2 linked regions of the Homo sapiens genome follow. The protein of the gene in region 1 purifies or fractionates together with the protein of each later gene. This does not show direct contact. Each region holds a gene or a part of one and is shown on either strand. Other genes may lie near its edges. The genes, in order: CACNA2D1 and NDUFS4.

Evidence for each region.
Region 2: the proteins of CACNA2D1 (region 1) and NDUFS4 fractionate together in Homo sapiens (co-fractionation; one large-scale study listed by BioGRID). This does not show direct contact.

The regions. Positions count from the first base shown.
Region 1 is NC_000007.14:81,948,085-81,950,838, forward strand, and holds part of CACNA2D1 (voltage-dependent calcium channel subunit alpha-2/delta-1 isoform 1 preproprotein), read right to left. Parts: intron 2,425-2,754; coding exon 2,308-2,424; 3' UTR 1-2,307. UniProt on the Homo sapiens protein: The alpha-2/delta subunit of voltage-dependent calcium channels regulates calcium current density and activation/inactivation kinetics of the calcium channel. Plays an important role in excitation-contraction coupling.
Region 2 is NC_000005.10:53,640,555-53,644,391, reverse strand, and holds part of NDUFS4 (NADH dehydrogenase [ubiquinone] iron-sulfur protein 4, mitochondrial isoform 1 precursor), read right to left. Parts: intron 1-3,837. UniProt on the Homo sapiens protein: Accessory subunit of the mitochondrial membrane respiratory chain NADH dehydrogenase (Complex I), that is believed not to be involved in catalysis. Complex I functions in the transfer of electrons from NADH to the respiratory chain.

The sequences.
Region 1 (2,754 bases):
TTTTGAACATAATTTTAAGGTAGTTTGTTGTATGCTGGAAGCAATTCAATTGTTTTAATGTGCATTGTTTATATACACAAACTAACAATTTTATATTTTGATACCCCCTTCCCAACACTATCATGATTTAAGATAGTCTAGCAAAAATTGAACAATAACTTTTAAATATTTAACAAACAACATGATTAAAACATTGTTACTAGAGTGAGAAGTTTTTTTCCCCACATATATTTTAAATCACTTTGGTGTTTTCTAAAATGTCAATACCAGTTATGAATGACACTACAAAATCACAACAATGCATTAGAAATGGTAACTGATGTCAACTCTTAGAACAATAGTTGGCAAAGTGATTCCATTTCCCCCCACCTTTTTATTGAAAAAAAAAATCTTGAAATGTACACAAATGGTACCTAAGGTATATTGGTGGTGGGAGGGAATTACAAATGTATGCAAAGCTAAAAACAAAACAAATGTTATCTTTTAAGCTACGTTAAATTATTGGTTATATCTTTGATATGTGGAGCATATTAAAGCATGCTGGATAATGTTAATAACTTTGACTTAAAAAGGATATGTAAGAAAATTTCCAGCATATACACATACCAGTAATTGGCATGTTCCAAAAAAAGAAAAACTGCATTTTATCATAAAAAATATCTACATACGTTCAGCCTTCAGTAAAATTATTAACTATTCTTAGAATTACACATTCATAGTTTTTACCTTTTCTTCAAATACTGTTTGCTCCAGAAAATAATTTTTAAAAGCATAAATAATCTGCTACCATATTAGTCTATAATGAAATATCTGATTTACTACACTAACCATTTTCACCAATGAGGCTGTATAAAAAACAACTTTTATTATTCACAATCAAGTATTCATGTGCATACATAGAGATTCAAGGTTTCCTATTTGTTCAGATTATTGTAAAACCCTTATCAACTTGCATGGAAATTTTGGCCAAACGATCATACCATTTAAAATGGAAGGGCAAAAGCAGCAGTAGCAGGAACTTTTGGATTGTATGTGCTACTATTGAAACGAACAAAGAGGAAACCTAGGATGAATCTTCATTGAGAACATATATGTACTTTTCAAAAAATAAATGTGTCAAATCTGATTTATGTACTTAAAATATCTGTACATAGGTTATCAGGCGAAAGCATGAATCTGTATAAAATTCATTAATTCTCATTTCACCATTTATCTAACCCCAATCATTCAGCATTTACATTGCACAGTATATTCAGAGTAGTTTAACAACATTTTAAAGATGACTTAAGTGCATTTACACTGCAAGGTTCAGATTCTTACATAACAATATCACTCAGTTAACTTTTCAATGACTACACTCTACAGTAAGAGAAAAAACAACTGAAAAGTTAAAATAGCAGCAGCATCATGCAAAATACCCTTGGTAAACCAAAGTTCATTTATCACAAGAAAAACATTTCCCCCTCCCCCCTGACAAGCTTTTCTTAGAGCATTTTTAAATATCTGGCTAGCACTACATAACTGTACTGTGAACAAAAGGAACATTACATCAAAGCATTTATTAAGGGCTTGCTTACATTTATGAGGAAATATGTCACATATTCTAATTTCTCCCTCAAGCACCTTTAGTTTAATAATTTCTTAGTTACTATTTTCAAACCATCAATTCATTACCCCATCAAAATTGAATTGGTCATCAATTGTGTTTTATTTTTGGCAAAGAAGCCGTTCTTCATAAGGCATTTTATTCATGGCAAATTTTTCATAGAAAATTAGCCATTATTTATATTTCAACAATTTAGACCAATGTTAATTCTCTCTTTCTCTATATATTTCAATAATTGCTACTTAAAGCAGGAATTAACTTTTCACAGAAGAAAAAGTGAAGGCAAAAATAATTTCTTTCCCCTTAGAGATTTTCTTAGTAAAATTGCAGCAAGTCAAAATTCCAGGTCAATATCAAGACATTTCTTATGGTTCATTAACAATTGTATGGGGAACCCTTTCACATGTAATCACCAACAATGCAACAACAAACTCCCAAATTTTCCAATAGAGGACACGTATAGGATTTTGCTTTGATGTTACACATAGATGATGCAGCATTCACACACGTTTAAGGATCTGACACCCTGACATGCAGCCAGTGGGTGCCTTAGGAGTCTGCGCCTTAGTGTTATGCCATGGAACAGGCCCAGCTAATGTTTGTCTGATTTTATAGCTGACCCTACGTTACTGTAATTGAGGGCAGGGCTCATGTTTTGGCAGGGTCTGGAGTTTAACTATGCAGATTTGGTTTTTAGAAGGTCATAACAGGCGGTGTGTGCTGCCAGATACCAGCCAAAGTAGTAGAAACTGGATTCCAATGATATACCACAGGGAGGGATTTAATCCAGAAACACCACCACAGTCAGTATAATCCTCCTGTTGTTAAAAAAAAAAGAAAAGAACAGAAAAAGAAAAATCTAAAAATCTTGAAAAATATTTAGTAACACATCTTTCAGAGTAATCCATATTTAGTTCACTTTCTGAACTTACCTTATAAAACTGCTGTAATTGAAATCCAAAGAAATTACTTTCTCCTAGATTTTATCATTGAGGAATTTCCCTAGCATCATTTGACAAATGCTTTAAATTTTTAGTTGTAGCTTTTGATGATTATGAAAGAAAATAATAAATGCTGTTTGAATAATATACTAATTTTAAAGAAAAAACTTTCACAGTATCAAAAATCCTATATATTTATAAATGCAA
Region 2 (3,837 bases), on another chromosome or scaffold:
AAGCTGGGTATAAACAAACACTATAAGCATGTTATAGAATTATGGGGTGGGGCATCTTTTCCAAATTCCAAAGCATCCCCTCTGTTCTGAGCTGAGCTCATAAAAGCTGGAGCTGTAAGTTATGTCTATTTTTAAAACTATATGAAAGGAAACACATTAAACTCTTAACACTGGTTACCTCAGGAAGATTAGAGGAAACACTTTTACTTTACCTACTTCTATACTGTGATGCATATATGCCAAAGTGATTAAAAAACTTAAGATTTTAAACTTTTTCAAGTTTTGAAAAAAATTGAAATAGTATTTCTTGATTTATACTATAAAACAGTATTTGAGCTACAAAGTAGAAAGGACAGTATATAGAAAACCTTTTTTAAAAAGTGTCTACACAATGTTGCTAAGCTATTTATATTTTGAACTCATAACTACCAATCTTCCATGTCTTCTCGAATTACAGCAATTATTTATTGGTATCTTACCCTAATTTAAAGTTGGCATTTGAACAAGTGGGTTTCTGATTTTGGGAACCCAAGTTGTCATGACACAGAATCAGTTTTTGCATGCAGAAGACATGTAAGGTACTACAGCCCAATTGAGCTGCTGCCAAAGACAGAATAAAGAGGCTTGGCATCTCTCATATACTTGACACCTAAAGGGTACAGAGGCTCTAAAATTCCTAGTCCCTGTAGGCACACTCTCAGTCTAGACAACCTGATTTCTCACACTTTAAAAATGCATCACGACACCCTATTGTTATCATTTCATCCACACAGCTTCGGCTAGTGACAGAAGAACCTGTTCTTTAAGCACATTTCAATGGGCTAAAGCTCCCACTCCAAGATTCCATTAAAACAATGTAACACTTGAAAAGAACTATGAGGCACTATGCTGAACTCTACTTGTGTCTTCAACGCTTTGTGTGGTTCCCTCTAAATTCACACGGAGCTACCTGAGATCTAACTTTCACAAAAAAATTTAAAATCCGCAAACTATTTAAATTATATTGAACTAATTGTATTCTTTATGGATTTCTACTTTTGTATGGCAATATGGATCACCTGTGAGTTTTTGAAACCTATTTAGAAAAGCTAGAAATGCTTTGGAGAAAGATGTCACTATTGCCTTTTACAAATTTCTTATTTTACTGGTAAAATAGAGATAAATAATTTATAAATAATAATTCAAAAAACTAAATCACATAGGTATGAAAAGCCTTCAAGCTGGCACCTGAAGAACCTCAAGACTCACCAGTTAATAATTATCTGTAAATTCTAATAAAACAAGCTACTCTATAAGTAATATACACAGATTTATTGAATTTTAAAACTTAATTGTTGAATAGTTGGGTCAAGTATGAAACCTATGCTTCCATTATTAATGTCATTATCCTAATAAAGTTTCAGAAATACAACCTTATGTGCAATATGCTATTTTAATAAATGATAACTAATAAGTCAATGATAATTCACAGATTAAGGGCATTCAAGTCAAAATTTGCTATTGGAAAGATGCATGTCATAATTCCAAAGTTCATTCTTTCAACACCATATCTTCAACAATTTTAAATTTTGGAGGAGATGATAGCTGACCTGCCATTTCACAAGTCTACATAAATGAAGAGAAAATTTAAAAAATCACTATGAATGTACCAGTATATGTATATGAACTTTATTCTTTCAAATACCAATTTCCATGATAAAATACTAGTTTTCCATATTAAAACTGTATGATTCGGTTATCAACTGTCTCCATTTATCTTCTGTGATTTCAACTTTTTTTTTCTTTAACAAAGGAAGCAGGGAACAAGCAATGGGAAGTTGGTGTCAAAATGCAGAAAAACCTCCCAGCAAGCTTCTTGCAACCACCCAGGATTTAGAGTCTTGCTGGCCGCTCTCTTTTCAATACCAGAATTTCACACATTTCAATGACTATTATGACTTCAAAGAATCAAATTTTCATCATTGTCCGTCATCTGCCGGTTGATTTGTATAAAGGAGTTCTTCTGCATGCACTCCCAACAAAAGCCTCCTTACTTTTGTGGCTATATATCAAGTTTAAAAGTTTTGTTTGTGACAGTTGTGTCTTTGGTAAATTAGGGCAACACTGAAGGAGTGCAGCTGCTCCACAGGAACCTCCTTTTTGGCACCATTTCACTTAAATAAAAACTGAATAATTAGCTTCTGCCTTTATTAAACCACAAAAATGCCACTGGCCTTAGTAATTACTTCCGGTTGCCCCACCCACTTAACCTTAACAGTTTACACTTGTCATGAAGAGAAATAAATGTAAGGTTTTTGCACTTTGGGATGCATTTTTGCTAGATCTCTCAGTACGCCCAGAAAAGCCAAAACTTTTATCATGCTTTTCCTAGTAAGTTCACTAAATTGCATGTTAGTATGGATCAATGCTGAACAGTTTTAGTAGAGCACATATTGAAACATTAAAAATACTGTTTATAGAAACTTGTTCTACCGCAGACTATTAGTTATTTACAGCTAAAACTAATCTAAATTTGATGACTGAGTTTACATTCTATTTCAACCATAAAAGATGTTCAAAGAAAAGCAAGTCTTAGACCTGTAATAAAAACTTTCTTTCAACTAACCCACAGATACTTAAAGCAAGAAACTCATTAAAGGTTTCATAAATAAGGACATTTTACAAAATAAATTTTACAGTTTAAAAAATATAAAGAGTTGGCAGATAGCATTATCATATCTATTTACTTACTGTGGAAGAACTTAAACACTTCTAAAAACTTAGGGGCCATATAGATTCAGATACAATAAAAAACATAAAAATAAATTTGAGTTGTGCCATTAGAACCAACTTTTGTTTGTTTGTTAAAGTAACAAATTGATGTTGGAGTCCAACCAGGCAATGAATCAAGTGTTGGAATGTGACATCTGTTATATTTTGCATACTGGGCAAAACTATCATTGAGCCAAAAGTGTAGTTTGAATGAACTGCTGTGGATAATATGATAGAAATAGTTCATGCAAATGATGCTACTAATCATACAAGGAGTACAAAACTAATAATTAGAGACATGTTTTTCAATCTCACAAACTATTTTTACCACTCCTAGATCCTTCTGAGCAGGAAAGCCTTGGCTAAAAGCAAAGGGCTGAGTCAAAACTGGGTTGGAATCCCAGTTCTCAACTTTGGGCAAATTAATAGACTCCTTTTTCATCATGTATGAAATCAGTTTGCTATACCAAAATGAGTACTAAATAACATATGTGAAGTGGTTACCTTCGGCAACAAAAAGAATGTTTCTCATTTATTCAACGTATTTTTTAGCACTTACTACATATTAGACACTGAACACAATGAGCAACAGTGAAAACATGATCTCTGTCCTCAAGAAAATAACAAACATTTTTTTAAAGGACATTCTCTGTCCAACCACACCAGCTCTCAGGGAAGTTTGTAATAAAGGTCCCGGTCTTTAAGGGGATTCTGTCATCTCAACCTTAGCTGGTCAGTCATATGGTTAATGTCACAGATTAATGTGTGTGTGATTACAGGCATGTCATATTCCATGGGAAACTGGAGATCCATAACCACTATAGCAACAAAGTCTTTTCTTTCTTTTTGCCTATCTTTGGAAAGGGCTATCTCCTCCAAATTTCATGTTAAAATTTGATCCCCAATGTTGGAAGTGGGGCCTAACGGGAGGTTTTTGGGTCATTGGAGCAGATCCCTCACAAATGGTCTGGTGCTGCCCTTGTGGTAATGGGTGAGTTCTTGCTCTATTAGTTTCTGCAAGAGTTCCTCCAAGAGCTGGTTGTTTAAAAGAGCCTGACACATTCTCTCTCTCTTGCCTCCTCTATC